Linked DNA regions of Homo sapiens: all the other regions are reported to be linked to region 1. Evidence: microRNA targets listed by miRTarBase, many of them from high-throughput screens and not tested one by one. Region 1 holds a microRNA gene; each other region holds the end of a gene's coding sequence.

Region 1 (5,074 bases):
CATCTTATTGACTGCCTGCTTTGTGCCCAGCACCTGCCTGGGAATTCATCTGATCCGGTCCCTGCCTTTGGGGACTCCATTAGTCAATCAACAAACACTCACTGTTCTGCTACTGAACACAGCAGGGGATGAGAGAGAGAGAGAGAGAGAGAGAGAGAGAGAGAGAGAGAGAGAAATTTCTGCCAATGAGAAATCTCACAGTCTAGGGCACAAAGAAGGTAGACATTAACATTAGGCAATTTCAGAGAACTGTAAGCTAGGAAGAAAACAGTAACGGGGCAACTGGTAGAATGTGATAGGGAAGAGGCAAGGGGAGCTGCTTTTATAGGGTTATCAGGGATGACCTTGCTGAACAAGAGCCATTCCATCCCCTTGGGAATTGTGAACCCCTGGGAAAGGAAAATGCAAAGGATGTGGGCCTTTAAGGAAGGAAGGGCCAGAGCCTGGACAGGAGGCAGCCGAGGGCAGAGCAGGGCGGCCCAGGACCCAGCTCCGGAAGGAGGGGCATGTGCAAGGCCAGAATGAAGGATGAAAACACGTGGGGGATAGGCTGTGGCTCCAAAAGAAGAGGGGGGCTGCCACTCTGAGGGCCTGGGGGGTCCTCGGATCATTTTGGTACCAAGCCCAAGGGAAGGGGCCTGCAGAGGTGCCCTGGGCAGCGGAGTTAAACAGCTGGACTCTGCACTTGGAAATGCTCTCCCTGGCAGAGGGAGGGGCACTGGAGGGAGACCCAAGTGCCACAGGCTGGAGGGACCTAGCCTGTGGGGCGGCCTCTCCAGCAGGGCTGTGGCCCAGGGGCTGGGGAAGAGGGGTGCTGAGGGAGAGTGGGAGCAGGCAGCCCAGAGGGATGGTGCCAGGGATCCCCACTCCCATGCTAGGCATGGAGAGGAGCGGTCCCGAGGAGGAGGACAAGGGGGAGGGCAGGCACAGGCTGTGACTTCCAAGGCAGCGACGTCTCAACTAGGGGATGACGGGAGCCCAGCTCAGGAAGATCTCCCGAGCCCAGGAGCTCACTGATCAACAATGAGTGATAAAGGACAGCCTTAGCTCATTCTTTGGGGTCACTCCTGAGGTGCTCCTTGCCTTCAGCCCTGGACCCTGGGCATGGGCAGCATGTTCTGGAGTCACTAAGTCTCCAGGTCAGCTGCAAACAGGCCTCTGGTCATCTTCCTGTAGTCTGGGCAGGCCAGGGGTGCAAATATGACATAAGCATCGGGTAGCTGAGAGCCAGCCCAGCCTGGGGGATGTGCCAACCGGAAGCAAGGGCATGGCGGGTGCTCCCGCTGACACTGGAATTGGGGATGCCATTCTGTCACACTTCCAAAGCCCCCCAGAACAGAGTGGAGCTGGAAAATTAACAGGCCAAGTGACACAGGTCCTACACAAAGTCCACAGGGTCAACCAGCGCAGAGCCAGCTGCTGCCTGGAGTTGACAGCAAAGAGGAAGGCATCCAAGGTGGGATTCGATATCGGAAAGAGGTTGACTGTATAATATTCATCATATAGAAAGTGAACACCTCACAGGCAACCTATTTCAGGTACCACTGAGCAGCACTGACTCCAGGGAGGAGGCTTCTTCCACAGGGAAGGGCCCTGCCACCCACCCGCCTCCAGGATGGAGGCCAGCACAGGGCTGCAGGTGGAAGTCAAGCGCGTGCTCGGCCACCAGCCATGCCTCTGGGGGCCCACAGGGCGCGCAACCGGACCTCCCCGACATCAGCAGGTGCAGGAATCATGCAGGTGGGATCTGATACTGAAGAGAGGCCGCTCGTGTCTTGTGTGTCATGATTTCTGTGAATGCAACACAGGCCACCTCTCCTCAGGCACCACAAGGAGCAGCACACGCACACGGCCACCCAAGGCACCAGCTCCCACCCAGGGTCTCACAGCACTGAGATGAGCAGAAGGCAGCCCAGGTGCAGGGAATGCATGCAGCCGCCCCCAACATCCTGGCGAGGGGTGGGTGGCCTTCCAGCAGGATGCCTTCCAGCGGGACTAGCTCCCCCGTGTCCTCTGCCTCGATGACACTGGCCATGAAAAACAGACTGAGCCCCGTCACCATTGCTCATCAGCTTCATGACCGCCCCCCACCACAGTGCACAACCCTAGCATCTTCCCCAAAGTCCACATGGCCCCCCGAAAGCTCTCCCAAAATGATTCAATGGCGGGGGTCAGGGGAAAGGATGACAAATGTCACACCAGCCCATGCATTCACGTACCCTGGAAAGTCCCGCCTCAGGCGTGGCGCCCGCACACCACCGGGCGGTAGCGGTACTGAAAACAGGCCATCTGTGTTATATTCGTCATTAATAAAAGCGAACTCATCACAGACAACCTCTTCTCAGGTACCCAGAGTGCCATCGGCTCAAGAACGTGGCTGCCGCGTCCCGTGGTGCCAGCGCTGCCCCCGGGAAGCAGTCCTGAGGACGGATGGGACATCAAAGGTGAGAAGACACAGAGACAGGAAAGAGACCCCTGCCCGGCCCACTCTCGGTGACCAGGCCCCACTGAGGCAGCGACTCCAAAGCACCCGTCCTGCTCCTACCCTCAAAAGGGCTTCATCTCCAACGGGTCCTCCAAGGTGAGATTTGATACTGAGAAAAGATCAACCATGTATTATTCGAAGTCAATAAAGCGAATATAACACGGTCGATCTCCCTTCAAGTACCAGGAAAGGCGCTGAGCTGAAGCGCGATCGGCTCCCCGGCCCGCAGGCCCCACAGGCTGCAGCGGATACGGACGGCTAGTGGACCAGGTGAAGTACATTAGAAACAATTACTTTCCAACTGGTCGACCATCCATCCCCGTACCCCAGAATGGTGCTGATGCCGGCGTCCTTCCCCGAGGTGCCCCAGCCTCCAAGACGGCCTCCCTGGTGGAATTTGATACCGAAAAGGGGTTCACCGAGCAACATTCGTCGTCCAGATGCAAAGTTGCTCGGGTAACCTCTCCCCGAGTACCATGGAGAGGCTCAGATGCTCGGACTAAGGTGAATGCTTGCAGGCGGCTGTGCTTGCAGAAGACCCTCCCCCAAGGGCAGCACAAGGTCTGGGCATTCAGAGCCCAGAGCCTCACACTCTCCAAGGACGTTCCCAATCACCAAGTCCAACGATTCCAACCCCTTCCAGAATGAATCTAGAGACTCTTCCCAGAAGTTGAGTGCAAGACCCAGGTAGGATCTTATACTGAAAAGACGGCAACCTTCCTTGGGCACCTTGCTAAAGATGAAAATGAAACCCTGCTCGCACCCGCTTTTCATTCCCAGACCCTGAGAGGGGGTGACCCTGTAGGGACCCCTGCACAAGCACAGAGCCTCCCTCCCAGCAGAGGATTCCTTTGGCGGGAGCTCAACGGGGCACAACGCTGACCCCAGACCTGCGGTCTCACCAGCACCATCTCCAGCCCACAGAGGCATCACCCCAGGATCCCTCAAAGAGTAACTTCACAGTTATCAACAGCTGGCTGACCATCTGATTAGCCTCATAAAGCAAGTGAGACATTCAAAATAAGGGACTGGGGGGATAAATGCAGCAGAAGAAAGCAGGTGAGTCACAGATGTCTTCTCTTCACAAGGGTCAGGGCAGCCCTGACCTCAGAACCCAACCTTCCCCAGACTCAGAGAACACCCAGAAGGTGCCTCCTGGAGCGGGCAGCCAGCAAGCATCGGGCCAGACGATGGATGCCACAAGCAGAGTCCAGATTCTGTGCCCACCACCCATTCTGTGAACTTTGGAGTGGGACCGACAGCAGAATCCTTTCCCTGACGTTGGCATGAGCTCAGAGAGCCCTCTGCGCCTTGCTACAAGTGGAGCAAGAGGCCAGCCATGCGAGGCCTGCTGTAAAGAAAGAAAAGATGTCACAGACGACTTCCCTTCAGGAGCCATGGGCACTGACCTGCATCAGAGCCTCCTTCCTGGGGCAGGCATCACCTCCCAAGGTGGTCCCGGAACGCACCGGAGTCAGCAGGAGTGGAACAGATGACATGCACCGTGGGTACAATCGGGCCTGTCCCATGGGCGGCCCTCAGGCACCTGCCCTGGAGAGGGCTCCGGCTGCAGGCCGCCTCCTGAGGGTGCTGTTGCTTCTGGAAATTCTCCAGGTAGGGTTTGATCTGAAAAGAAAGCCATGTGCAATGCTGGTCACCAACAAAGCAGGCCAGCAAACAACGAGCTCTTTCCACAGCCCCAGCAAGGTTTTTGACCTTGGAAACATCAACTCCAGAATGACTTTCAGCCTCTATGACCAAATGACATTCGGCACCAACGAAGGGCACGTCCTTGGGGCCAGCATGGAACCATGTAAGGTATCAACAGCAGAGTCTGAGGAAGGACTGAACCCCAGAATGTTCCTGGATGCCTGTGTGTTCATCAATAGCCTTGGAAGTGTGAAAGGAAAGTTATCTCGGGCCCCTAAAATCACTAAGGAAAACTCAAGCTGGAAGCTGCTCAGGATAAACCTGCCTCTCATTCCATTCAAAGTCATCCCTCTGCTCACTGAGACAGATGCGTATCTGATTTGCCTCCTTTGGAAAGGCTCATGAGAAACGCGAAAGAATGTAATCATTTGTGTATCACCTGTCTGTGACCTGGAAGCTCCCTCCTTCCTGCCTTCGCTTCAAGTTGTCCCACCTTTGCAGACAAAACCAATGTACTTCTTACATGTGCTGAATGATGTCTCATGTCTCCCTAAAATGTATAAAGCCAAGCTGTGCCTTGACCACAGTACTTCCTGAAGCTGTGTTACGGGTGTATCCTCAACCTTGTCAAAATAAACTTTCTAAATTAACTAAGAGCTGTCTCAGATTTTCTGAGTTCACAGAAGCAACTGTCCTGAAAGACCAGACCCCACTGACCGTAGAACTTCTGCTTCCCTCCGGAGTCAGCGTCTCACCCAGAACCCTCCGTGGGGATGGAGGGAGACCAGGTGATGCCTGTCACTTACGTATGAATGCTCTGGGGACAACATGCACCCAGATCCCCGGGAGGACGCCTTACCAGTGTGTCACGCCTGAAGTCAGCACACCTTTCCGGGAAGCTCTCGGGAAGGTTTGGGGCAGCAAGAAAAGATCAACTGC
Region 2 (5,074 bases), not on the chromosome of region 1:
ATTGATGGACTCATAGTTTAATTATGCAGGTTTTAAGACATATACTGATAGAAAATTTTTGAACCCTACTCCTGAAAATAAATTCCAAGATTTGAGTGATTAATCAGTATGGAGAAACAATTCCCAGAAGTGTTTCTTTGTGCATTCTTTAGGACTTGACCATACACAAAAAGTTAAATTGTATACAGAGTGCATAGCGGCAATATGTTGAAGGACATAAGTAGTGCTTGGTACATTAAATGATAAAATGATCTCATTTGATTATAACAGGGCCTGTGGTGTATATGTAGATAAAATGGAAATAGATAAGGTACTGTTCTCTCTGAATAGTCTGGGGTAATAAATTAATGTATTGTTTCTTGTTATTATGTTTAAACCATTTCATTGTAATGCTGTAATAATTTCACTTGACTAATTGGGTGCAGAGGAAAATACAACTTTTTGAAGTTGGCTAAGAAGTTCTTTATTTTTGGTTTAAATTAGCATAATTATCTCTTCTGCTTGGAGAAGAAAAGGAAAACCTATATTAAGAAAATGTTTAAATACAATTATTGTGTGTCAGTTTGGTGGCTAATATTCTTGATCTTAGGAATCATGACTACAATCTAGTATTTTTATGTTTGATTAATGTTGAGATTAAGAGCTGCTGGAAATGAATGCGTAGGTTGCTACTTACCTTCTCCCACTTTTTTGTGCCTCTGTAGGTACATGGACTATATCGCACAACAGGTGCTAGTTTTGAGAAGGCCCAACAGGAGTTTGCAACAGGTGTGATGTCCAACAAAACTGTCCAGACCGCAGCTGCAAATGCAGCTTCAACTGCAGCATCTAGTGCAGCTCAGAATGCTTTCAAGGGTAACCAGATTTAAGAATCTTCAAACAATACACTGTTACCTTTTGACTGTACCTTTTTCTCCAGTTACTGTATTCTACAAATATTTTTATGTTCAAAACACACAGTACAGACAGCATGGATATTTCCTGTTCACTTGTGCATGGGCTAAAACCAGGAAAACTTCCTTGTCTTATTACTTTACCTAATAGTTTCTTAATATTTCAGTGCCCCTTGCAGAAAAAATATTACATGCTAAATAAATATTCTCCATATTTTTGGGGGATGACATTCAGTGAATTATTTCAGTGGTGACCCACTGAAAATTAATAATGGTACTTATGATTAAAAACGCATTTAATACTAACTGCAGTAGTTCTTTCAAGAATCTTTAGAGATAAGGATTGCACATTGGAAAAGTAAACCATGTTTCATTCCTTTTTCCCTATTTATATTGAAAGAAATAGGCCAGCAGAGACTTAGGGATTTTAAATTGGCTTGCTTTTTAGCTGTTTCAGTCACCAGTGAAGAGCCTATGTGCATTTTGTAGTAGATAATGTAAAATTTGTCATCTTTTTCTTTTCTTTTTTTTAGAATAGCTGATATTTTGATAACAATCTCTAATTTGCATGGGCACCACATTTCTTATATTAAAAGAATTAGTGTTTTGGCTTCTGTACTGCTTATGGTTGTAGGATTCAGGGGTTAATGGAATCACAGAAATGATATTCTGCAAGAATTTCTTTTAAATAAAAAGTTTGGGGGTGCAATATAAGAAGTTTATATAATATGCAGTACATTATCCAAAAGAGAAGGTAGTTAATGCAGTAGAAAGTAGTGGTAATAATTCCTTTTTAAAAAAATTTCGGTAGTCATATAGTAACATTTTGCTATATGAAAACTTTGGTATATTCTGTGGTTACAACTAAGATTGTGTCTGGCAGCTCTTTTTTGGGGATGTGTGTGTGTGATTTTTAACAGAGGTATTAAAGGCTAGCCTAACTGTTGTCTAAAAAGATTGTACAGTATTTAAGGGATTTTCCTTTTAGCTTTTCATCTCCAGTGGCATTAAACATAAAAAGACCCTGGCATTTTTTCACATACTTGAATCCCTAAATGCACCTGTCTTTCACTTTTTGAGACAGACTGAATATATCTAAAATTTCCAGCAATAAAAAAAAAAGCATTTAACTTGCACCAAGCAAGAAAATATAAATACAGTTAACTGCATTAAGATAATCACGTTAAAATTGTTACTATGCAGCACAGAACTTCATTCTTATAGTATTCTTGGGTTCAACCTTTGAATCAATTTTACCACTGATTAAATAAATGACTCAAAGACATCTGTAAGTCATGCTGCTGTGTTTTGAAAGTCTTTAACTAAATTAAGATTGCAGAATGATAGTGATTATTCAATTAGATTTTAAGTAAGGATTGTGATATTAGAGGCTGGAAATCCTTATTTTTTAAAAAATCAGATAGGCATAAATAGTTAAATCACTTTCATTCTCCCCAAACCTGTAGTTACAGAAAAAGTTTTATGCTAGAGGTGGGATGCCAAGTTTTCACTATCCATGAAGCAGCGCTGCATGTCACTAGGTAACACAGATCCATCCAGATGGTGTTTACATTTGATTTATTTGGGATCTTATTGACATCAGGTATACTTGGAAGACATTTCTTTTATTCTTCAGCGTATGAATTTAAAGCTATTTTTTGTAAATATTTCTAATCAGCGATAATTTCTACCTATGTTCTCAACCAACTTAGCCAGTTTGTTTTTCAGAGCCTGTAGTCTTATTGGAAATCTATTTTATCAGTGTGCTTTATTGAGTGTGGATTTTGCATACATTCAAAACATTAACCACAAAATACAGCAAGTGCACCTATATTCACCATTAACTTATATCCCAAGTCCATTTTTTCCTGTACACTACAAACAAAAGATATATTAGAGACTTTTGAAAAATGCTGAAATACTTTGCTTCAGAATTGGAATGTTTATATTATGTAGAAATCTTCAAAGGTAGCATTATTAAATAGCAAAGAATAATTAGAACCCACATATCTTTTTTTGTGTGGATGGGGAAAATGTTTTAAAATCCAGTTATTTAATATGAGTTTGAGAGAGAAAATTGTTTTTTAAAAATATATGTGCATTGAAATGATGGCAATGCTTATAGTATGATCAAGTATGAAAGGAACTTTAAATTCTTATATTTACTTTTCTCTCAGTAAATTGTTAAATTTTCACTCAGCAAAAGATTGGCATTTGTTAAGTGTTCTATATTTAGTACTAAAATCACAGTCATGAAATCATAGTCATAAAATGGTCTTCACACAGCAGTCATCCGTGTCATTTATCATTTTGTAATATTAAATTATGGCAATTTTATTTCAAACTAAAGTTTGAACACCGGAAAGTCATTACTCAGTGATTTGTAATTTGGGACTTGGATTATTTATCTAGAGATGTTTGTATATTTTGTCAGTAACTAATACTGCGCTGCCATCATGGTGACTGTCATGGTTCTACAGAAATGCCCTCCATGTGTCCCTCTAATGTTGCATGTTTCAGTGGGTTGGAAGTTTTGTATATTTATTGTATTAACACAGAGTGTCATAAAATAAAATGCTGTTTACTGGATGTTTGTTTGTATAATTTTGAACACTATAATAGCAATTCAGAGACAGACATTGTTAAAGGTTTGATGTATATAGAAATTCCATGTTTGATTTTTTAAAATATGTGTATAAGTCTGTCATGTGCTAAACAAAATAATATGAAAGACCTAGTTAAAAATTCTAACCAATGTAAAATGACCATTTTTCTGTTGCATTAGACCTTTACAGGTAATGGAACATGAGCTTCACCCATATTAAATATTTTGGCCCCTTTAAGGTCAAAATACAGATCATCTAGAAGTTAGATTCAAAATGGAAAACCTATTCATGGCTCAGATTTTTCATTGTGGGTTAAAAATGGGTGTCTCTGTACTAGTATTGTATTTATTCAATTGAACTTGTATTCTGATTTCTATCCTTGCTACCTATTGCTGTTTTATGTACTGATGAAAGTACCTATTTGTGTATATTGGATTTTTCACTTGGTTAGCTAAAGAAGATGTAAAAATATCTAAAATAATGTTCATGGTGAATCTTATTTTGAGAAATACATGTTAAAAAAGGAACAGTATTCTTTATTTTCTGGGTGTTATATTTAAAAAAGCAAGTTTGGATTTTTACACCTAATTTACTAGGAAAATATTTTATTCTGTAATTCATGTTAAGATTATGTATGGTTTGCATTTTAAGGGGATTTATGTTAGGTTAATTAGTTGTTTCTGTAAATCATTTGTAATAGCATAGTGCTTTTTACTCATTGCTGTATCTTTTTCTGAAAACACTGTTGTTAACATCTAATTCAGTATCCTTATTGGTACAAATCTGTGTTTGGCATGACTGTTTATATACAGAATTTGTTACATTTTGAGCATTTTTTCCCCTGCTTATGTATACCTTAGAGTTACCATGGCTGTCATATACCATTTCACTATATCTCCTTTCAGTTTTTCCTTAAGGAAAATGTTTAGAGGAATTTGTTCATTTCATGTGATTAAGCCCTTTAGAGATGAAATAAGATTGGTTAATTTTAAAAAAATTGAGGATGGTTAAAAAATAGAAAACACCTTACTTTGATACATTTTAAAGTACAATAGTATACATTTATTTAGAGTAGACTAATGTGTTTAAAACATGAGTTGTTTTAAATACTTTTTTATTGAGCTAAAAAGTTTTATCTCACATATTAAGTATTACAGAAAGTGAAGTATTTTGGCTAGAATTTTAGGGCATATTTTATAAAGCAGCATGCCTGTAATATTGGTGGGTATTTTTAAACTTTAGGACTTTATCACAGTATGTAGAGAGCTAGAAATAAATCTAGAAACTTTCTAAGCCAGGTATTGCCACTAACCTGTCTTATATAAGCAGATACCTCTTATTTGAAGATTGTAGGAAAATAGAGAAAGACTGTTCTCCAGTTTTCTCACCCCCGCTGTGGGTTTTATATTTACAATTTAACTTTGGGGTTTGGGTAAGACAAACATTTAATGTATAGGATTTTGGCCAGGTGTGGTGGCTCACGCCTGTAATCCCAGCACTTTGGGAGGCCAAGGTGGGCGGATCACGAGGTCAGGAGATCGAAACCATCCTGGCTAACATGGTGAAACCCCATCT
Region 3 (5,074 bases), not on the chromosome of region 1:
TTTCCTTTAGTCTTTTAAACTTATGAGTCTTGCTCTTTAATATCTTCAACCTCGTTCAGAGTGACTACCAAAAAGTATATGACTAAGTGCCACATAAAATAATCTTGAGTCTCATTTTAATAGAGAATAAATCTGTCCAGAAATTTTGTTGAATTATATACTAAATAATAAAAGTTAAATATATGATCTTCCATTTAACTCATTTTTTATAAAGTGAGCCAGTTCTATTTTTTTTAATCCTTAACCAGGAGAGTATGAATCACCCACATTTCCAAACTTGGAATACTTAGAGAATATGTTTTTAATAACTATATTTAAATTTGTATTTTTTCCTTTCAGGCTGCATCTATGACAATGACTAGCACTCAACTTTGGTCATTCTGCTGTGTTCATTAGGTGCCAATGTGAAGTCTGGATTTTAATTGGCATGTTATTGGGTATCAAGAAAATTAATGCACAAAACCACTTATTATCATTTGTTATGAAATCCCAATTATCTTTACAAAGTGTTTAAAGTTTGAACATAGAAAATAATCTCTCTGCTTAATTGTTAACTCAGAAGACTACATTAGTGAGATGTAAGAATTATTAAATATTCCATTTCCGCTTTGGCTACAATTATGAAGAAGTTGAAGGTACTTCTTTTAGACCACCAGTAAATAATCCTCCTTCAAAAAATAAAAATAAAAGAAAAAGGAAAATCATTCAGGAAGAAATGACCTGTCTAAAAAAACCTAAGGAAGAATAATAATATAAGAAAGGAAATTTAAAAACATTCCACAAGAAGAAAAATTATTGTTTATACTTCTACTTATGGTTATATCTTATATTCTCTATTCAAGTGACCTGTCTTTTAAAAAGGCAGTGCTGTCTTACCTCTTGCTAGTGGGTTAAATGTTTTCAAAAATTATAGCAGTAGTAGAAGTTTTGTATAAAATTTGTCCTTATTTGTTAATTGTATATAAATGTTAATTATTTGATACGAATGTTATGCATTTAGTATGCACATTGAAGTCTAAACTGTAGAAGAGTCTAAAACAAGTTCTCTTTTTGCAGATTCACATACTAATGGTTTAATTCTGTGCTCTGTTTAAAGTACTATTATAACTAGAGTAGATCTGAATGAGGATAACCCTAAAATCATGAGGAATGGAAGAATGGACCTTGAAACTACCTAGGCTTTTATGCATGGCACCTCTTTATAATGAAGACACTTTTTAAAGTTTTTGTTTTTGTTTCAATTACCGCTAGATTTTTTTTTCTCTTTTTTTAAAATCCATTTTACTGGAAAGTTGGCCAGCAGAGGGAGTAGAAATTATTAAAATTCTAGTGTTTGGATTGGGCCCTTCTCTAACAGTACATACTCATTCCCAAAGCAATCCAAAAACAAAATGTGAACCATTTGGGTTTCAAATGTTAAGAACACTAAATAGCATGATTTAAAAAATGAAAAATGCTAACACCCAAGAAAAGAAGATATTAAGTGCTTTTTAACAACTCCTAGAGTACAAAATGAGTACATCATAATGCTGGCTCTTCTACTAATGAACCATCGAGTGATATTGAATAAATTATTTATCTTCTCAGTTTCCTTATCTGTAAATTACAATATTAGACTAAGTAAGTTTTTCCAACTCTTCACTACCAATTACCTTAGGCTTTTATAATGCTCCGCCTACTTCAGTCCCATGTTTCAGAAGCTTTTGTCTATTTTTTAAACTCATTGATTAAATAATGATTAATGCATTCTCCACATTTTAATATTGCAAAGGCCCATTGGAGTTTCTGAAGTGGCTCCACAGAATTGAAATAATTTCAAATAACTGTAAAGGAACTGAAAATCTTCACAGAGATGAAGTGGGGTTTCCATTAGGTGCTTTGAAATTTGATAACAAATCATCAACTTCCACTGGTCAATATATAGATTTTGGGTGTCTGAGGCCCCAAGATTAGATGCCACTAATCTCCAAAGATTCCCTCCAATTATGAAATATTTTAATGTCTACTTTTAGAGAGCACTAGCCAGTATATGACCATGTGATTAATTTCTTTTCACACTAGATAAAATTACCTGGTTCAAAAGTGGTTTTTGTTTATTAAATTTGGTAATAAATATATATAATACACAGACAGGATAGTTTTTATGCTGAAGTTTTTGGCCAGCTTTAGTTTGAGGACTCCTTGATAAGCTTGCTAAACTTTCAGAGTGCCCTGAGACACTTCCAGCCATCCCTCCTCCTGCCTTCATTGGGGCAGACTTGCATTGCAGTCTGACAGTAATTTTTTTTCTGATTGAGAATTATGTAAATTCAGTACAATGTCAGTTTTTAAAAGTCAAAGTTAGATCAAGAGAATATTTCAGAGTTTTGGTTTACACATCAAGAAACAGACACACATACCTAGGAAAGATTTACACAATAGATAATCATCTTAATGTGAAAGATATTTGAAGTATTAATTTTAATATATTAAATATGATTTCTGTTATAGTCTTCTGTATGGAATTTTGTCACTTAAGATGAGCTGCAAATAAATAATACCTTCAATGGATAACCTTGCCTCCTACTTCATTAAAAAAATTGAGGCTAGCCAGATGCGGTGCCTCACATCTGTAATCCTAGCACTTTGTGTGGCCGAGGAGGGCACATTTCATGAGCCCAGGGGTTCCAGACCATCCTGGGCAACAAGGTAAAACCCTGTCTCTACAATAAATACAAATAATTAGCTGGGTGTGGGGGCACATGCCTGTAGTTTCAGCTACTTAGGAGGCTGTGGTGGGAGGATCACTGGAGCCTGAGAGGTCGAGGCTGCAGTAAGCCATGATTGTGCCACTGTCTCAAAAAAATTTACCCTGTCTCAAAAAAAAGAAATAAATATATTTTTTTAATATTGAGGCCATCAGGCTTCCTCTCTCTTAACTTGATCCTACATCTACAAAACAGTCTTTCTCTGCATCCAACCTTGACTCTAGCTTCAGCCTCAGAAGACGGGATATCTCCTCTTCAAGACCAAACCTTCTACCAAGACTCCTAATACTTTGACTCCTATTTTGTGTCAGAAATTAAGATAACTAAACGCAATTCCTTTCAATTCCCTACAACCTTTGACCTTAACCCATATCCAGACACTGTCCCAGAGAATAAGATGTCATGCCTTAAATTCAAAGCCATAACCTTTGGATCCCATTTCTTCCTGCCTTTTCTGGAGTGTTTGTCTTTTACAATTCATTCTTTCCCATTCTCCTTCTCCTTTTCTGCCTCCCTCTGGCTATCCCTCTTCTTTATCTTTAAGTTCTCCCACTGTGCAGATTCCTTTCTCTAGGCTTACAAACACTGAAATCTTTCCCATCTAAAAAGCAACATGAAACTTTGCCTTGGGCCCAAAAACCTGTCCAGCTACAGCCCGTTTGGATTTTTTTCCCCTCATTTCATTGTCTTAAAATGGCAGGGTATATGTGGCAGCCAGGAGAATGTGCCTCAAAGACTTCCAACTATGGGGCATTTAATTGTCCAAAAGTCCCCAGCTGCTGCATTCTGAAATCCATCACAATGTTTGTGCCAAGATCAGGCTGTTCTAGCTAATGACTGAGTGTTGCAGGGATACTGAGGCAGGCCTATTCCTGAAAGACACAGAACTCCTCACATGGCCAACTTCAGTTTGAGGACTCCCTGACAAGCTTGCTAAACCTGCAGAGTGCTCTGAGACACTTCCAACCATCCTCCCTCCTGCCTTTATTGGTATAGACTTGCATAGCAGTCTGTCAGCTCCTCCAGCCTTCTCCAGCTCCCTTCCCATTTTCTCTCACACATGTATTCTTCCCCACCCACACATGTATTCCTCCCTTCCCATTTTCACTCCCTCTTGGTGTCTGCTTTCCAGAGAATCCAAACTGAACACAGGACATCTGAAGAGTTTGTAAAAATACACATTTTTTTTTTCTCTGCAGATCAACAAATAAAAATCTCTAGGGAAGAAACTTTGGAGTTCATTTTTCCTTAACTCTAAATATGAGTTTAATGCTCAGCCACGTTTGAGAATCTCCCATCCCTATTCATCCTTTGCCATATGCTCAGGGTATATTCAATCGTCAACTTACTGCAACTCGATCTCTGCTACGATTTCTCTAAAGTCATCTCTACATGATATCCCACAGGTACCTGTAACTCATGGAACTCAGAAAGGAACCTTTTCTCTTTCCCCCTAAAACTAATTATCCCTCCTATAGATTTTACCTCAGTGACATCTGAATCATCCAGTCATCCAAGCTCAAAACATGGAGGCTGCTCTCTTTCTCCTCTTTTACTCTCTATCTGATGAAATATCATTAAACAGAGCTCCTAGAAAACAAATAATTTTGTTTTATTTGTTTTTATATTTCTTACTTTATGGCATATTTGAAGCCCTTCATTATATATTTAATAATTAAAGAATCAATGAATGATGTGTCTGCAAGGACTGTGTTAATCCTGTGGGCTGCCACTGTAATTTTTTCTTAATTACTATTTCAGATGCCATAAGAGGTTAAATAAATTGATGACCAAGAAATCTCTATTTGATTTACCAACATGTAAGTCATTGGCCACCTGAGAAAGATTCACTGAAGCAATCAAGACCAAGCTGATTGCAATGATGTCGCTCATCAGGCTTTCTGGAAACAGATGGGATAGAGTTTGAGGGAAGAGATGTCTATTAAGGATCAATATTTGTGAAAGGAAGGGGAGGAGGAAAGATTGGTCAGAGAAAGAGGTTGAACATGATGCAAGCCTGACAAAAATTCAGCCGACCAGACTGAGGCCTCTGGAGTAAATGCGGCCCAATACTTATCGTCCTTCAGGCCAACATAGCCAGCCTTTGTGATTTTGCCTTGCTCGTGGTTATCTGTGGGCCATCCTGGGAAGGTCATGATCTGTACAAGATGACATTGCACAATCATGAACAGTTTCCATTCTGTTCTCTCCAGGAAAACAGTAGGCTATATGTACATTCTCCTAAAGTAGTCTGGAGCATAAGCACAATCTTCAGCTTTATTTGCAAATTTGAGAAATGGATAAATGCTCAACAGGTACTTCTCATC
Region 4 (5,074 bases), not on the chromosome of region 1:
TTCCACCGTAACCCAGACATACATCAGGAGGGAGTTAGTTCATATACCCAGAGATACAATCACAGTATGCTAGGTAGGGCAGAGCAATTATGGCTGCAGAAAGATGGGGAAGGGCCCCACACCTCCCGCTTGGGCTATGAATTTCTTAGGAGATGGGTTTGCGGGTGTACAGTTGGGAAGTTAAAAACTTAACACCACATGATTTTGTTTGAGTCCAGCCTATATCCAAGGGTGAGTCTTTCCCCTCTTTCTCCTCCTCCCTTCCTCCCATGGCTGCCACAAGGCCACAAAAATAACCAGGCAAGAGGTGTGAAAATAGGACCTGGAGCCAGGAACGTCCAGTGTCTCAAGTTCCAGCCCTGTGGCTTCCACCCTTCCTGGTGCTTTGGGAACACCGGCCCCATTTCTGGCGCCTGGGACAGATTAGGAGAAAGAGGCGGAGGAGGGCTGGGAAGAGGAGGTGGAGAAATGGAAGGTGGAGGTGACCCTCAAAGAAAGGGTTGCTGGAGGCATTAATTATTCAAATAAGCACTGGATAGGGGAGCACCACCTCCATTAAGATGGCAACTTTGTTTAATGGGAATTAAGCTATTGAAAGTAACAAACTTTTCATCAGCTTATTAAAACTGTCACATTTCTTAGGTGGGGAGAGCCATCTTTTCAGAGTAGAACTGGACACTCCAGACTATGTGACCTGCCCTTTGCGGCCACAATGGTAGTTGGGGGCAGCCTATTCCCACCAGGCCCAACAGTGAACTTCCCAGTCACCAAAGGCCACCAATACATTTTATGGGGGAAACTCTGTAGTCTAAGGAGTTCTCTAACTGCATTCTTACACCTAAGGTATAAGCCAAACACCTTTTAGAACAGTTTCTTTTGGTATAGGGAATTTGCTGGTTGTGCGTCCCTTCCTTCCTTCCTCCCAACAAGAGGAGCCCTTTGGTTTGTAGATAGGGAGGTCTGAAGACTTGAAGTGTAAGAAAGCAAAGTTTAAGTCGCCCTACAGAGGGAGCAATTTCCATCATTTTTAGCAGGCATTAAAAAACATAGTGAGGGGGTGGGTCTCTGAAGGAAAGAGGGGCCTTCAGAGGAAGGGAAGATGGCAAAGAAATAATAAACAACGAACAAAACAACAGAAAAAGAAACAATAAAGCCACGAGTCGCTACATTTAGTTCGTTTAAAGATTCGGGCCAGATTGAACCCCGAGAAATTGGATAATGCTGGTTTCCCAGGAAGACCCTGATCTGGTCTCAGGGCACTTTCTCTAATTCGGGTTTCCCAGTGCCCAGTGGTAGGAGCACCCCAGGATCCCTTTCCTTTTGCTAGATCCAAAGATTTGGTAAAACACACACACACACACACACACACACACACACACACACACACACACAAACACACACACACACACACACACACACACACACACACACGCCCTGTCTGTCGTCGAGTTTGTGGACAACCAAAAACAGCGCAGAGAAACCGGCCCCATCCTACGCACTGCACTTGACCTCGGGCCACAGACGTTTCAAAAGCATGCACCTTTCAGAGCACGAACTCCCAAGTCGCATTCCTTACAGAAAAAGCAAACAGCACAACCCCAACGACAGATCCCACGAGGAGCGCGGCCAGGAAGCGGCGCAGGAGGCGGTTTTGCAGAGCGTCCCATTGGCCCCGCGCGCCCAGGCCCTTGCGCAGGGAGCAAGCGCCCCCGGCCCGATGGAGCGGGGTCCTGGCGTCGGGCAGCCGAAGTCTGAGCCGCCGTGCCTTGGCGGGCGCAGCCCGCTCTCGCTGCTGGGGGTAGGGCAGCGAGTCTGCATTGGGCTGGACGTGGCTGGGCCTCCCAGAGCTGTCCCTTCTCTCCTCCCGCCTTGGACACTCGCGCAGGGCCTGTCTATGGTACAGGGGGCAGGCTCCCTGGCCAACACGTCAGTAAACAGCACCCGCCCTCTCTTGCCCGAGGATGCAGAGGCCAGTGTCAGTCGTGCGAGCTCAAGAAAATGGACGAGCCAGGCCCAGGGGCCCGGCTCCTCCGGACTGAGAATGGCTTCAAGGTCTTGAGTCATCGTCGCATCTTCTCAGCAAAACCCAAACCCTGTTTCGAAGTTTCCGGGGCGCAGATGACCCAGGTCGACAACCCAGCGATGGCTGAGGGGAGCCCCCAAGCCTTGAGAAGCAACCCTCTCAGCAGGTGCCTTTACCCTCTGGTCAGGAGAGAGGAAACGCCCCACAAAAACAGCAGGTAGGAATCCTTCGCGTTCAGAAGATGAGAAGAACCAAGGTGCCGTCGGGGCTAGTGCGGGCTGCGCCTTCTCTCCGAGGCCTGTCGCTCGTCTTCCTGCCACCAGGTGGCGCCAAAGGCGTTTCGTCTCTGCCCGCCAGGCCGCCGGGCTCCAGGACTGCGCTGCTGGAGTCTCTGCCGGAGCCCTTGGTGCTGGGGTCCTGGGGTCCCTTCTTAGCCCCCTTAGCACGTCGCATCTGGGCCCAGAGGAAAATCCACTTTTACACACACCCTCCACCCTGGCCCCAGGAAATGTCAAGGCCTTTGAAGTGAGGCTGGGAGCTACATAACCAACTGGGGAAAAAAATTAAAAGGTGGTTTTATGTTATTTGTAATGCGTTGGCAGAAGTTTTGTTTTTTCTCCCCCATTTCTTGAGGAAAGGCATTAAACTCGTCCTTGAACGGAAATCACAGAAGGAAACCATAAGGCATTTTAAACAAGAATAAAAGAAGGGCATCTGCTTAGGTGTCTGGAAGAGGGTGGGCGAGGCAAGAGAGAAAAACACCACGGTGTGAATATAGCCAAGTATTCCATTTATTAACAAAATAAGTCTTACCAAGGGAGAGCTCTGTTCGTCCCAAACAGGCCCCGCAGCCCCCGCGCTGCCGCATCAGACCAGAAGGAGGGAGGAGTGGGGAGAAGACCCCAGTCGCTGGGGGGTCCACTCTGGGGGCTCTGCCGGGCCAGGCCTAGGAGAGGGCGGGGGCTGCTGTGATCCGAGAGCTCCCTGACGCCCCAACCTTCCCCGAACGCAGCTAACGAGCTCGTGACATCCGCTGACATCGCCACCGGTCTGCTTTGGAGGGATCTAGCGAGAGTCACCTACCCCACCCCTACTGCCAGGGGAGGGGTCGTTGCCCCCACGAGGGAGAGAAAAACAAGGACTATAATGCACTTCGCAAAATGTAAGGGGCCGGCTTCACGCCAGCGGGGCCTTCTGGGACTTTGAATTCAACCAGGTGAGCGCTCCAGGTGCCCCGACAGGCGCACTGTAGCCACTGGGTGTTAGGGGCGGGAGTCTGGAAGGTGACGGTAGACGGCCACTTGGGCCCTTCTGGGGGCGAGCCTACTGGTGGGGTCAGGGCTCTCCGTGCTCAGAGCAAGGTAGAGGAGCAAGGCCCTACTTTTGGGGGGCAGGGTCCAGACCAAGGACCCTATGCGCGGAGGGTGGCGGGGGAGGAGTCCCGGAGCAGTGTACCAGGTCAATAGAGCTCCAGGGCCCCTGCCACCCAGGTGGCCCCCTCCACCCCCAAAATGAGTTACAAAAAAAACCTCCTCTCTGTTACTTGTACAACAAAGGAAAAAACAAAACAAAACAAAACAAAAAACAAAAACAGAACCGCAAATGGAAGGAAACAAGAGGGAATGAAGGGGGAAGAGGGAAAAAGAGAAGGCGGAAACGTAGTTTTAAGTTAAGACTCATGCAAGAAACTCCCCAGGAAGGGAAAACAAAACGTCTAGAAGAACCCAAAGACCCCAACTCTCCCTCAAACCAAACCAATCAAAACCAAAAAAAGAGGAAAAGGAATAAAAAATGTAAAACTTATATCTAAGAAAAAATAACAGAAAGGAACAGGGGCGGGGATCATGTCGTTATTTGTGGGATTAATATTATTATTTGGGAGAACACAGACTTTTTGCATACCATTGACTCATGTGGGCCGTTAATGCACTTATATTCCCAGCTTGTAAGCTAACATTATAGTAAATAAATACACAGTCCGGTGGGGAAGGGCTGGGTGGGGAATCCCGGCAGGGTCAAGCAGTAGTGGAGGTTGCAGCGGCGACGGCAGGTGGGGAGGGAGGAGGAGGGAGAGGGAGGAGGGTGAGGGGGCTGGGGTGGAGGAAGAGCTGTAGTTACTGGTATCCCAGCGCCGAGGCTGAAGCTAGTCTCTGTCCATACAGCGCGTATGGCGAATAGTAGGGTCCGGCTGTGGGGAGGGACGGCACGGCCAGGCCCCCCGCTGTGGATAAGTGGCTCTTGCCATAGGGGTGGTACCGGCTTAGGCCCAAAGTGTGTGGATTCCGCAAGGACAGCGACCCGGGGCTGCCGGGGGCGGCGGGCGGGGGGAGGTGCAGATGGCAGGAGGCGGCGGCGGCGGCGGCGGCGGCGGCGCTGCCCAGGCCCGAGGCCCCGGGGTAGGCGGCCAGAAGTTTCTCGGCTCCCGGCAGGGCCGTGTGGGTCCGTAGGTGGCTGAGCAGCTCCTCCGAGGTGGCGAAGCGCTTGTCGCACGGCCCACTGGCTGCCACCCAGTTGCAGCTGTGCGGCAGCGGTTCGTTCTGCAGCATGAAGCCGTAGGTGTAGAGCGGGTGGCCGGGGAGCGCGGCCTGGGCGGCGCTGGACGAGAGCGCGGCGGGCTGCAGCGGGTGCCCGGGGTACACCAGCGGGTAGCCCCCCGCCTTCAGGCTGGGCCCGGCAGGGTCGTGCGCGCTGCAGGTGGAGCAGCTGGAGCCGCCGAGGTGCGAGGCGCCGTGGTAACCTCCCAAGCAATAGGGGTCGCGGCATAATCCCTGCAGGAAGGAGGGCGGGGAGGCCCCGGTGAGCGGGCTGGAGCTGGGGGGCTTGCCCGGCGGCAGGCCCAGGCCCCCAGACAGCTGGCCTCCCACGAGGCCGGACTTGCTAGGATCCAGGCCAGGCACGAACTGAGACGGGTAGCCGGCGTAGGCGCCCACGATGGAGCCGTGGTAGCCAATGCTGGAGGGCGGCAGCGGGAACACCGAGTGGCCCGGCTTGTAGGGAGACACCGGCGCCACGTGGCCGGCCCCCACCAGCGCCGAGGGCGGCTCGGACTTG
Region 5 (5,074 bases), not on the chromosome of region 1:
TGTAGGTGGACCCAGGGGTATCCTGGTAGCTCTTTATTTTCACTTTGACTCTACCTGCCTTCATGGGCAATTCCTGTTAAGAGACTGAAGATTAATACTTTTTCCATAATGCTATCTTCCTAAAAGTATTTGCTTGGGAGTAAGTACATGTGATAGCTGTTACTAGAGAGTAGTAGTACATAGGAGAGATTGGGAATCAGGCTTATTTTAAGCAGGGCAATAAAGGGGAATGTTTGGGTAAGAAAGTATGGATATAGAAAAGAACATCATTTTTTTCTCTGAACCTTTGAAACTGTCTCCCTTTCCAATGTTTTCTGTCCCATTTCCTGACACCTACGTCTTGTCTCTTCTTTCCAGAGATGAAGTACAGCTGAAGACCACCTACAGCAAATCCAACGGGCAGCCCAAGAGCTTAGGCTCAGCCTCCCCTGGCCCAGGCCAGCCACCTCTCAGTAGCCCCACGAGGGGAGGAGTCAAGAAGGTGTCAGGGGTTGGTGGTACCACCTATGAGATTTCGGTGTGAGCCTTCGGCACCTCCCCTCCCCAACGCCTCTGCGCCTACACCAAAGGGCCCCAGGTGGCCACCTTCCTTCCCTCAAGGGGCTCCCCTCCCGTGCATGGACATTTTTTAAACCACCGATTCCAAGAGGATGAGGAGTGTTTTCTAAAATGCAGTAGGCTTGGGGAGTCGGAGAGTTGGGGCCCTGAGACTGGGGTAGCAACCCCCCCTTTTATCTTTTAAGACCTTCCCTTCCTTGATCCCTGGACCAGACTCAGTGGACATTTGTGCAATTGCTCGCCCTGGAGGGAACCAGATCATTTTTAAACCAGAAATAATTTTTTTTATTATTGTTACGGATTCTATTTTTTTCCTCTTCTGCGTTACCAGGTGTGTGTGTACATATAATATATATATATATATATTATAAATATCAAAGAAATTATATATCTATCCTGGGATGGGAAAATGAGGGAGGGATACATATACGGAGGGGGATCTTACTCTTCCCATTCCTCAGACCAGCAGGAAAAGAGGGGAGACGTCAGTCTTTTTCCTGTGGTTCCCTCTCATTTGTCCCAGTTACTAACTACGGAAATAGCATCCTCTGCTGGTGCTAAGTGTGATTAGGAAGAAGCCTGGGGAGAGGTGAGTCTGGAATTTTGGTCACAAGAGGGAAGGACTTGGAGAGGAGAATTAGTTTTCTAGGCTCATTGGCATTTAGTTTCCCTAGGAAAGGGGTCAAAACTTCAAGACACTGGTGGTGGTGGGAGATCAGGAAAATAACTTGGCCTAGCTCAAACAATATTGGATAATCCCCTCCTTGGGGGAGAGGGATTAGAGTGTGCTCCTACTGGCCCCTTGGAGCCTCCCCTAGCTTACACAGTTAACTTGATTTTAAAATCCAAGGCCAGGAGAGAAGAATCCAAAAAGCAATATTTTTCATCACATGCCAAAAACGGGGGATAGAGAGAAGGAGTGGCAGGCCTAGGCCCCTCCGATTGTCCCTTGGGGGTTACCCCTCAGCCCACCTCACTATGGTGCTGGGTAGAGGGGATACCTGGGTTCTAACCTCTAAATAGGGGAGATCCCAGCCTCCACAAAGAGGCCCTTTTATTTTTTATTCTGATTAGCCATTTTAAACCAACGAGGAATAAAAAGAAATCCTGATCTAACCAGCGCCCCCTGACTTGTGTTATTTTGTCTGGTTGAGACAGGGTGAACGATCTCTGGTGGGAAGTTATCAGTGACAACCTCATAAACTTCTCTGGTCCCAGCCCATCTTTAGGCAAGACTATAATGAAATTAGCCACTTAACAACTAAAAAAATAAAAAAGAGACCCAGTGCGGTGGCTTATACCTGTAATCCCAGCACTGAGGGAGGCTGAGGCAAGAGGATCACTTGAGCCCAGGAGTTCCAGACCAACCTGGGCAACATAGAGACTCCATTTCTAAAAACAACAGGTCCTGTTTTTATTTGGGTGATTTAATTCAAAAATTCCTGAAAAAAGGTCTCTTGAAATCACCAAAACTGCTTGTTATTTGAAAGCTTAGAGAACTCTTAAAAGTTGTTTCTTTCAAGAGACAGGGCCTCATTCTGGTTGCCCAGGCTGGAGGGCAGTGGCACAATCAGATCACTATATCCTCAAATTCCTGGGCTCAAGGGATCTTCCCACCTCAGCCTTCTGTGAAGCTAGGACTTACAGTTGCATGCCACCATGCTTAGCTAATTTTTTTTTTTTTGGTAGAGATAGACTCTCAACCAATTTTGCCCAGACTGATCTCGAACTTCTGGCCTTGAGCAATCCTGCCTTGGCCTCCCAAAGCATTGGGATTACAGGCATGAGCCACCATGCCCAGCTACAGTTGTTTTTTAATACAGGATTTAGTCTCTGGAAAGTAAAGCTAATTTTGGAAACAGCCAAAGGTGACATAGTAACAGGTATGAAAGCCTGTTGAAGGCAGGTTAACTAGATATCGGTGTCAGTTCAATTAGATATATTGCATTTTATTGGACAAAAGCTGTGCTCTAATTTTAAATAGGTATCCTTAGACACTAAATCTCAAGCAGTTGACCAGAGCCCTTTAATTACTCAAAATTTAAGAATATAAGCTCTTAGCCGGGCGTGGTGGCTCACGCCTGTAGTCCCAGCACTTTGGGAGGCCGAAGCGGGCTGATCACAATGTCAGGAGATCGAGACCATCCTGGCTAACACAGTGAAACCCCATCTCTACTAAAAATAACAAAAAACTAGCCTGGCGTGGTGCGGGCGCCTGTAGTCCCAGCTACTTGGGAGGCTGAGGCAGGAGAACGGCGTGAACCTGGGAGGCGGAGCTTGCAGTGAGCCGAGATCACGCCACTGCACTCCAGCCTGGGTGACAGAGCAAGACTCCGTCTCAGGAAAAAAAAAAAAAAAAAAAAAAAAAAAAATATATATATATATATATACTCTTATTTGGGTGCAGTAGCTCACACCTGTAATCCCAGCACCTTGGGAGGCTAAGGCAGGTGGATCACCTGAGGTCAGGAGTTCAAGACCAGCTTGGCCAAAATGGTGAAACCCCGTCTGTACTAAAAATGCAAAAATTAGCTGGGCGTTGGTTATGGGTGCCTGTAATCCTGGCTATTTGGGAAGCTGAGGTGGGAGAATCACCTGAACCCAGGAGGTGCAGGTTGCAGTGAGCTGAGATTGCACTACTACACTCCAACATGGGCGACAGAGCAAGACTCTTTCTCCAAAATTTAAAAAAAAAAAAAAAAAAAAAATATATATATATATATACAAAAATTAGCCAGGTGTGGTGACGCACACTTGTAGTCCCAGCTACTTGGGAGGCTGAGGTACAAGAATCACTTGAACCCAGGAGGCAGAGGTTGCCGTGAGCCGAGATCATGCCACTGCACTCCTGGGCAACAGAGCAAGACTCTGTCTCAAAAAAAAAAAAAAAAAAAAAAAAACCCAGCAAACTCTTATTCTGAAATCCTGGATTTAAACCAGCTGAATGAGTGGTTTTCCACCCACTGATTCAGGAACAACCTTGGCTTTCACGGCAACAGATTTTAACTGTGTTAAATTTAAAGTCAGATTACATTAATTCAGGTTTTCTCATGGATGTTTTCAGTTACCTAACCAGCTGGAAAAACTAAAAGTGTTTTTTGTTTTTGTTTTTCACATTTTGATGGTTTAGGCTACATTTTGTTGCTGTTTTAGAAATGTTTTCACATCAGCTAAATAACTTTATTGTCTTAACTAAGGACCGAAGCAGGTCAAAAGTTCTTGTAAAGAGAAGGGAAGCTTTACCTTTGCTTGCCAGAAGTTCATCTCAAAAGATCACAGGCTTCTGACCTAAAGAACCAATCTTGTTGAAACACATGGGTGACTGTCCATGTGTTTTCAGTTGGCTATTCTCTTTCGACACAAAATTGACCTAGAATACACTGTTGAGCCCTACCTGGATCAGCTCTTCAGATGGAGCCTGAGATCACCGAGGCGCTTGGTTCTCAACATAATGGGCAGAGTGTTACGTGTCTGCTGTGGAGTATTAGTAAGCTTGGGTCACTTTTCATTTTGGTTGGTTCCCTGCCTGCTAGTGAGATCATGTAATGACAAGACCCAAATCCCCTCAAGTCTTAGGAATGCCTTGTCTTAAATCCTGATTCACAGAAAGGCACATACCTCTTAACAGGCAGTCACACTTCAGCCAGTTTGATAAATGTAATTTTTTTTTTTTTAAAGAAAACACAGAACAAGTCCTAAATCAGACAAATTGCACAAAAGAGAGAGAAGAAAATTGTAAGCTTCCTGGGAGAGGAAGAGATGTCCATGAGAAAACCAACTGGGATGAGCCTACAAAAGCATGTCCCTCTCTCTCCTAATTTACTTAGTCTCAACTGAGCCCAACAGGAGCTGGCCTCTGTCCCAGCTGCAGGATGCTCCCAAGGCAGTGTCCAAGAGCCTGGAAGGCAGCTTTTATCAGCAGGTTCAGTACAGCAGGAAAAGCCATCCTGGCAAAGAGTCCAGTGGTCCTATTAGCGTAGGCTGCTGCTGCTGCTGGCCTGGGAGCTGCCCATACCTGGGTGGTCTGGACTATGTCGATTCTGGGGGAGAAAGAAGCAGGGTAAGAACAACTAGGAACTAGCCTTGGCTTTGATCAGGCTGTACAGGAGAAACCTGCAACCTGCCTTGGGTTTTCAATCTTGGGTCCAACTTGAGGCAAAGAACTCTAGGGTATTTAGGACAGGGGTGAGATCTGGGGAAACTCACTGGGTTGTGGCAATAGGCCTCTACTCTACCTTCTTTTTCTTCTTCTCTTTCTTCTTCCTTTTCCGTTCAGGATCCTCTTCTTTTTTCTTTTTCTTCTTCTTGTGATCTGAATCAGATGGTGTTTCTGTAGGAGACATTAGGTACCTATCACCTGTAAAGCTCAAAATCCTCTACTGTTATGAACCACTGAAGACTACAGGAAAATCCCAAGTCGGGGCAACTGCTTTTGTCCAAATGGCCAGAAAGGATACAGAGGTGCTGCTAGAGTCCCTGTCCCAAGTCCCAAGAGACCACAGTACATTGGTTTCTT
Region 6 (5,074 bases), not on the chromosome of region 1:
TTTCAGATGTCCTGAATAAAGCTGCTAATAACAAATCATTACTAATTACTAATCTTGTCATTACTATTCCTGGAGATAGTGTTATGGGAAATGGGAATAGCCATGGCAGACAGTATTCTTGTATGTTAGCATTTAGAGTGATTCTGTTTTCCAGCATCGGTCATACAGACGGGTCATCTGGCCAAACTGCAAAAGCTGGACCTGAGCTACAATGACAGCATCTGTGATGCGGGGTGGACCATGTTCTGCCAAAACGTGCGGTTCCTCAAAGAGCTAATCGAGCTGGATATTAGCCTTCGACCATCAAATTTTCGAGATTGTGGACAATGGTTTAGACACTTGTTATATGCTGTGACCAAGCTTCCTCAGATCACTGAGATAGGAATGAAAAGATGGATTCTCCCAGCTTCACAGGAGGAAGAACTAGAATGCTTTGACCAAGATAAAAAAAGAAGCATTCACTTTGACCATGGTGGGTTTCAGTAAACTGATTTCCCATGTCCTACTAAGCTACAAACCATTCTCCAAAGGAAAAGAACATGAACGAATTCCAGAGTCATGAACTGAATTTCAACTTCTGGGCCATTTAATGGGACTTATATTACAAGAGCTTTGTAAATATATATATATATTACATATATATATGTAATATACATATATACACATATATATAATATACATATATAATACACATATATATGTAAATATATATATAATATCTAATATGAGCATGCCATTATTCTCTGTCTATGAAACAAAAATGGCATTTTTCAATGGATTTGTTTTGGATATATAATTAGTTCATTTGCTGTTTAGAAGCCTTGCCAAAAGTGTTTAGATTTTGGTACTGCAACTGCTTTCCTCTTGCCCAGAAATGTTTTGCCTCTTCTTTTCCTACAAGTTAAATGTTCTAAATATAAAGGGGTATGTGTGTGTGTGTGTAATTCTAATGTGAAAGGCACTAGCTGTCTAATAGTTTCATGTATCATTACTATTACTATATGTATCTTAATGTAGTCTATGTAGGTTTTTATCAGAAAGTGTACCTTTCTATGGTTTATTATTTTATATTCTGGTGCCTTTTATCTCAGATATAAACCATGAACAGTAATGATAGTCACTGACATATAAATCTTAGTAAAAAGTGATTAAAAATCTAAAACTCAGTATGAAAAACATATCTTGTTAGAATAAATTAAAACCTTTTATTGTTTAAAAAATTGTTAACATATTGCCTCCAGGCATTTCTTTGAAATGGAATTTGCTTCATAAAACTAATTTAATTCGTTAATGACAGTTTTGTGTTGCTCTAAACTATTTTTGAAATTTTTGATTTTCTTTTGCTAGAGCATGAAAGTCATTGCATGGCAGAGATGTTTGTCTGCACATTTCTATTCTGACAAGCTCTAGTCAAATTATGTTTTGCTTTCTTCTACTACACTAATAATTAGTATTGCAATCACTGCCTGAAAGACATGCAAATGTAAAATCAACACTACTCCAAATTAAAAGGTTTTCAGGATGAGGAGGTTTTGAATGATGTAAAGGGGATATTTTGGGTTACATGATATAAAAGAATACCATGAATATCATGAGCATTCCCATGCATTCCATGAGTATCTATGCATATGCAAAAACCTATGCATGAATGTTCATAGCAGCTTTGTTCACAATAGCAAAAAAACTAGAAACAATGAGTGAAAGGTTAAACAAACTGTGGGACTATGGAATACTCCTCAGCAACAGAAAGGAACAAACCACTGATACATGCCCCCAGTTCGATAGACTTCAGGTGGATTAGGCTGAATAAAAAAGCCAATCCCAGTTACAAACTGTGTGTTTCCATTTATGTGACATTCCTAAAATGACACAATTATGGATCTGGAGAACAAGTTAGGCATTGGGAGAGGAGTAGGCAGTAGGTATGGCTACAGAGGAATAGCACAAGGGAAACTTGTGGCAATGGAACAATTCTATGTCTTGACTGTGATGGTGGCTGCACAAAACTATATGTGACAAAATTGCATAGGATTACACAAACACACACACACAAATGAGTGCACTGTTGATTGTACCAATGTCAATCTTCTGGTTTTGTTATTGTGCTATAGTTATAAAAGAGGTCAGCGTTGAGGGAGGCTGAGTAGTGCCTGGACCTACCTGAACATTTCTTTGGAACTTCCTGTGAATCTATAATTATTTCACAGTAAAAGTTTTAAAAGTAGGCTGGCTGGGTGCAGTGGCTCACGCATGTAATCCCAGCACTTTGGGAGGCCAAGGCGGGCAGATCACTTGAGGTCAGGAGTTCGAGACCAGCCTGGCCAACATGGTGAAACCCCATCTCTACAAAAAAAATATAAAAGTTAGCCAGGCATGGTGGCATGCACCTGTAGTCCTAGCTACTCGGGAGGCTGAGGCATGAGAATTGTTGGAACCTGGGAAATGGAGGTTGCAGTGACCCAATATTGCACCACTGCATGCCAGCCTGGGCAACAGAGTGAGATCCTGTCTTAAAATAAATAAATAAATAAAAGTAGGCAAATAGTATAAAGAACCCCTGCGTACTCATCACCTTATTCTAGTTATCAATGTACGGCCAATCTTGTTTCACTTGTATTCCTACCCACTTTCCCCTCCCCCTCCCATATTATTTAGAAGCAATTCCAAGGTGTTATATCATTTTATCCATAAATATTTCAGTAAAAGTAAGAATCATTTATTTTTACACATAAGTGTAATTTTATGAATAATTTTAATGTAGTAGGCATCTAATTCCTAGATATTTTGTCTTCTTAATCTATCAAGGTCCATTACCCCAATTTATCAATTTACAGGATTATTTCTTTTTTCCCTTTCCTGGTTTTCCTTTTACATCCTTCTTTCCTTTCTTATCTTTTGGAGAGGTCTTTCCTTTCTTTTGTGGTTTTAGTAGTTCACCGAATTTCCCAAATCCTCTCTGTACCATTGTTCCACGCCACCATGCCTGAATCTGAAAACAAGATAAACCCAAATTCAGCATCGGCTGGTATCACAATGAACTGGAAATTGTTAAATCTCTTTATTCTGATACATGGTCTTGAAGACGTGGAGAGAATGGGATGTGATTAGAACTCTAAATTTTATTTTCTATCTTTCTCAATTGGCTAGGCATTCAGACAAATTTTTTAAAAAATGCATTTATTGTTTTTATGTGCCAGTGCCTGTTCTAGACTTTTGGGCAACAGCAGAGAAATAACTGTCTCAACTTTATGGAGCTCACATTCCAGTGAGGAAGAGACAGTACAAAATAAACACATGAATGTTCAATTTGTCAGACGGTGATGAGTGCTATGGAGAGTGACCGCACATGGTGAGGGGATCTGAGTGCCTACGCCCTGCCTTCCTGCTCCTTACTGGGCTGTCTGTGCTCCTGCCTAAAGCCAGCCCTCACTTGTTCCCTGGATCCTATTCCCTCCTACCTACCCAGCAACACCCTTCCTCTAGCAGCAGACTTGTCCAGTGGCTCCCCATTTCTCTCTGAATAGAAGCCAAAGTCCTTATATGGCTTACAAGGCCCTCTCTGATCTGCCTCCCCAATCCTGACCCCTCTAACCTCTTAACTCCCTTTTCCCTGGCTCACTCTGCTCCAGCCATGCGGGCCTCCTCCCTGCTCAGACACATAGGCACAGTTGTGACTCAGGGCCTGTATATTCGCTGCTTTCTTTGCCTGGAACTCTTCTCAGTATTCAGATGGCTCACCCCTCCGCTGCTTCAAGGATTTGCTTGATTGTCATTGCTACGGACTGAACTGTGTTGCCCCAAATTCATATGCTGAAGTCCTAATCCCCAGTGTGAATGAATTTGGAGAAGGGGCTTTGAGGAGATGATTAGATTTATATGAGGTCATAACAGCAGGGTCCTCATGATGAGATTAGTGGCCTTATAAGGAGAGATATCAGAGAGTTAGCACTCTCTAGTGCAATCTCTCTCTCTCTCTCTCTCTCTTTCTGTTATATGAAGACACAGGGAGAAGTCAGCTTCTACAGGCCAGGAAGAGGGCCTTCACCAGACTCCAATCATGCTGATACTCTGACCTTAGACTTCCAGCCTCCAGAACTGTGAGAAAATACATTTCCATTGTTTAAGCCGCCTGTTCTATGGTATTTTGTTGTGGCAGCCTAAGCTAAGACTGCCATTTTTTCAGTGAGGCCTACTCTGACAATCTTATTTAAATCAACCACTTCTCCACCTCCACACACTACTGGCAATTTCAGTTCCCCTTAGGCTAACTTTTTTTTTTTTTTAAACAGTAGCACTCTCTAACATAGTATTTCATTTTATGTTTTCTATTTCATGCTTTTATTTCCCTCCTACTAGATTTTAAGTACTGTGAGGACATAAATATTTGTTTTGTTCACTGATGTATCTCAATGCTTAGAACAGTGTCTGGTGCATAGTAGAAGCTCAATAAATGTTTGTTGAATGAATGAACAAATGAAAGAGGTGGCTGGGGGTATGCTGTTTTATATAAGGTGGATCAAGGAAGGGCTCTCTGATAAGAGAATGTTTAAGCAGAGATGGAATGAAGTGAGGGCCAGAATCTTGCTCATATCTGGGGAAAGCATCTCTGGGCACAGGAAGAGCCAGTGTTAAGGCCCTGAGCCAGGAACATGCTTGGTCCTTGGAGGAACACCAGATCTGCTTGTGACTGAAGTCCAGTGAGAGTAGGAAAGAGGAGATGGGGAGTGAAAACAGCAGACCAATCGGGATCCAGGGAACAGCACTGCTCTCTAGAGGCATTTTGGAAATTTATGGGGCTTTTTGTTGACTTAAGGTTAAGCAGTCTTCAATTGTGTGGCCTATACCCTGGTCTACAAAGCCTTTCCAACAGTGTGCAGGCATGGATAGGTTGAAGACAGTCCATTTCCTGAGCTCCAGCTTCCATATGTACCCCTTCCTAAAATCATCCCGAGAACATAACTGCAGATCCCCCATCCCAGTTGCCCCTGTGATGCTCCACAGAGGAAGGGCACAGCTTGCACCCACCTGAATCTTACTATGGTGCATTGCCCTGGACTCCAAAAATCATTAGGAC

The links. Region 1 holds the annotated microRNA hsa-miR-656-3p (AAUAUUAUACAGUCAACCUCU, at 1,476-1,496, opposite strand). A microRNA usually pairs through its seed, bases 2 to 8, with sites in the 3' UTR of a target mRNA and lowers its output. Matches are read on the target gene's strand: a 7mer-m8 pairs with bases 2 to 8, a 7mer-A1 pairs with bases 2 to 7 and ends in A, and an 8mer does both.
Region 2: the mRNA of SCAMP1 is a reported target of hsa-miR-656-3p. Seed matches in the 3' UTR shown: 7mer-m8 at 1,617-1,623 and 7mer-m8 at 3,614-3,620.
Region 3: the mRNA of FYB1 is a reported target of hsa-miR-656-3p. Seed matches in the 3' UTR shown: 8mer at 748-755 and 7mer-A1 at 2,462-2,468.
Region 4: the mRNA of ZNF703 is a reported target of hsa-miR-656-3p. Seed matches in the 3' UTR shown: 7mer-m8 at 3,889-3,895.
Region 5: miRTarBase lists ZDHHC5 as a target of hsa-miR-656-3p. Seed matches in the 3' UTR shown: 8mer at 904-911.
Region 6: the mRNA of LRRC31 is a reported target of hsa-miR-656-3p. Seed matches in the 3' UTR shown: 7mer-A1 at 647-653, 8mer at 671-678 and 7mer-m8 at 713-719.

The regions. Positions count from the first base shown.
Region 1 is chr14:101,063,188-101,068,261 of GRCh38, reverse strand. MIR656 (microRNA 656) reads right to left here and starts at 1,538; the gene lies at 1,461-1,538. It overlaps MIR541 (microRNA 541), which reads right to left and starts at 3,767; the gene lies at 3,684-3,767. It overlaps MIR409 (microRNA 409), which reads right to left and starts at 2,962; the gene lies at 2,884-2,962. It overlaps MIR412 (microRNA 412), which reads right to left and starts at 2,815; the gene lies at 2,725-2,815. It also overlaps MIR369 and MIR410.
Region 2 is chr5:78,474,800-78,479,873 of GRCh38, forward strand. It overlaps SCAMP1 (secretory carrier membrane protein 1), which reads left to right. Exons shown (of 9, transcript NM_004866.6): 9 at 705-5,074. The coding sequence ends at 869. Among named protein-coding and RNA genes, the nearest start is that of SCAMP1, 120 kb to the left of the region's middle.
Region 3 is chr5:39,102,731-39,107,804 of GRCh38, reverse strand. It overlaps FYB1 (FYN binding protein 1), which reads left to right. Exons shown (of 19, transcript NM_001465.6): 19 at 340-2,553. The coding sequence ends at 362. Among named protein-coding and RNA genes, the nearest start is that of RICTOR, 31 kb to the right of the region's middle.
Region 4 is chr8:37,697,738-37,702,811 of GRCh38, reverse strand. ZNF703 (zinc finger protein 703) reads right to left here. Exons shown (of 2, transcript NM_025069.3): 2 at 2,793-5,074. The coding sequence ends at 4,138. Among named protein-coding and RNA genes, the nearest start is that of ZNF703, 4.5 kb to the right of the region's middle. RefSeq lists an enhancer at 3,154-3,665.
Region 5 is chr11:57,699,509-57,704,582 of GRCh38, forward strand. ZDHHC5 (zDHHC palmitoyltransferase 5) reads left to right here. Exons shown (of 12, transcript NM_015457.3): 12 at 358-1,674. The coding sequence ends at 523. It overlaps MED19 (mediator complex subunit 19), which reads right to left. Exons shown (of 5, transcript NM_001317078.4): 4 at 4,794-4,888; 5 at 4,202-4,598. The coding sequence ends at 4,530. Among named protein-coding and RNA genes, the nearest start is that of MED19, 10 kb to the right of the region's middle. RefSeq lists an enhancer at 4,627-5,074.
Region 6 is chr3:169,835,394-169,840,467 of GRCh38, reverse strand. It overlaps LRRC31 (leucine rich repeat containing 31), which reads left to right. Exons shown (of 9, transcript NM_024727.4): 9 at 155-1,296. The coding sequence ends at 486. It overlaps LRRIQ4 (leucine rich repeats and IQ motif containing 4), which reads right to left. Exons shown (of 6, transcript NM_001080460.3): 6 at 2,695-2,989. The coding sequence ends at 2,837. Among named protein-coding and RNA genes, the nearest start is that of LRRC34, 25 kb to the right of the region's middle. RefSeq lists an enhancer at 4,093-4,172.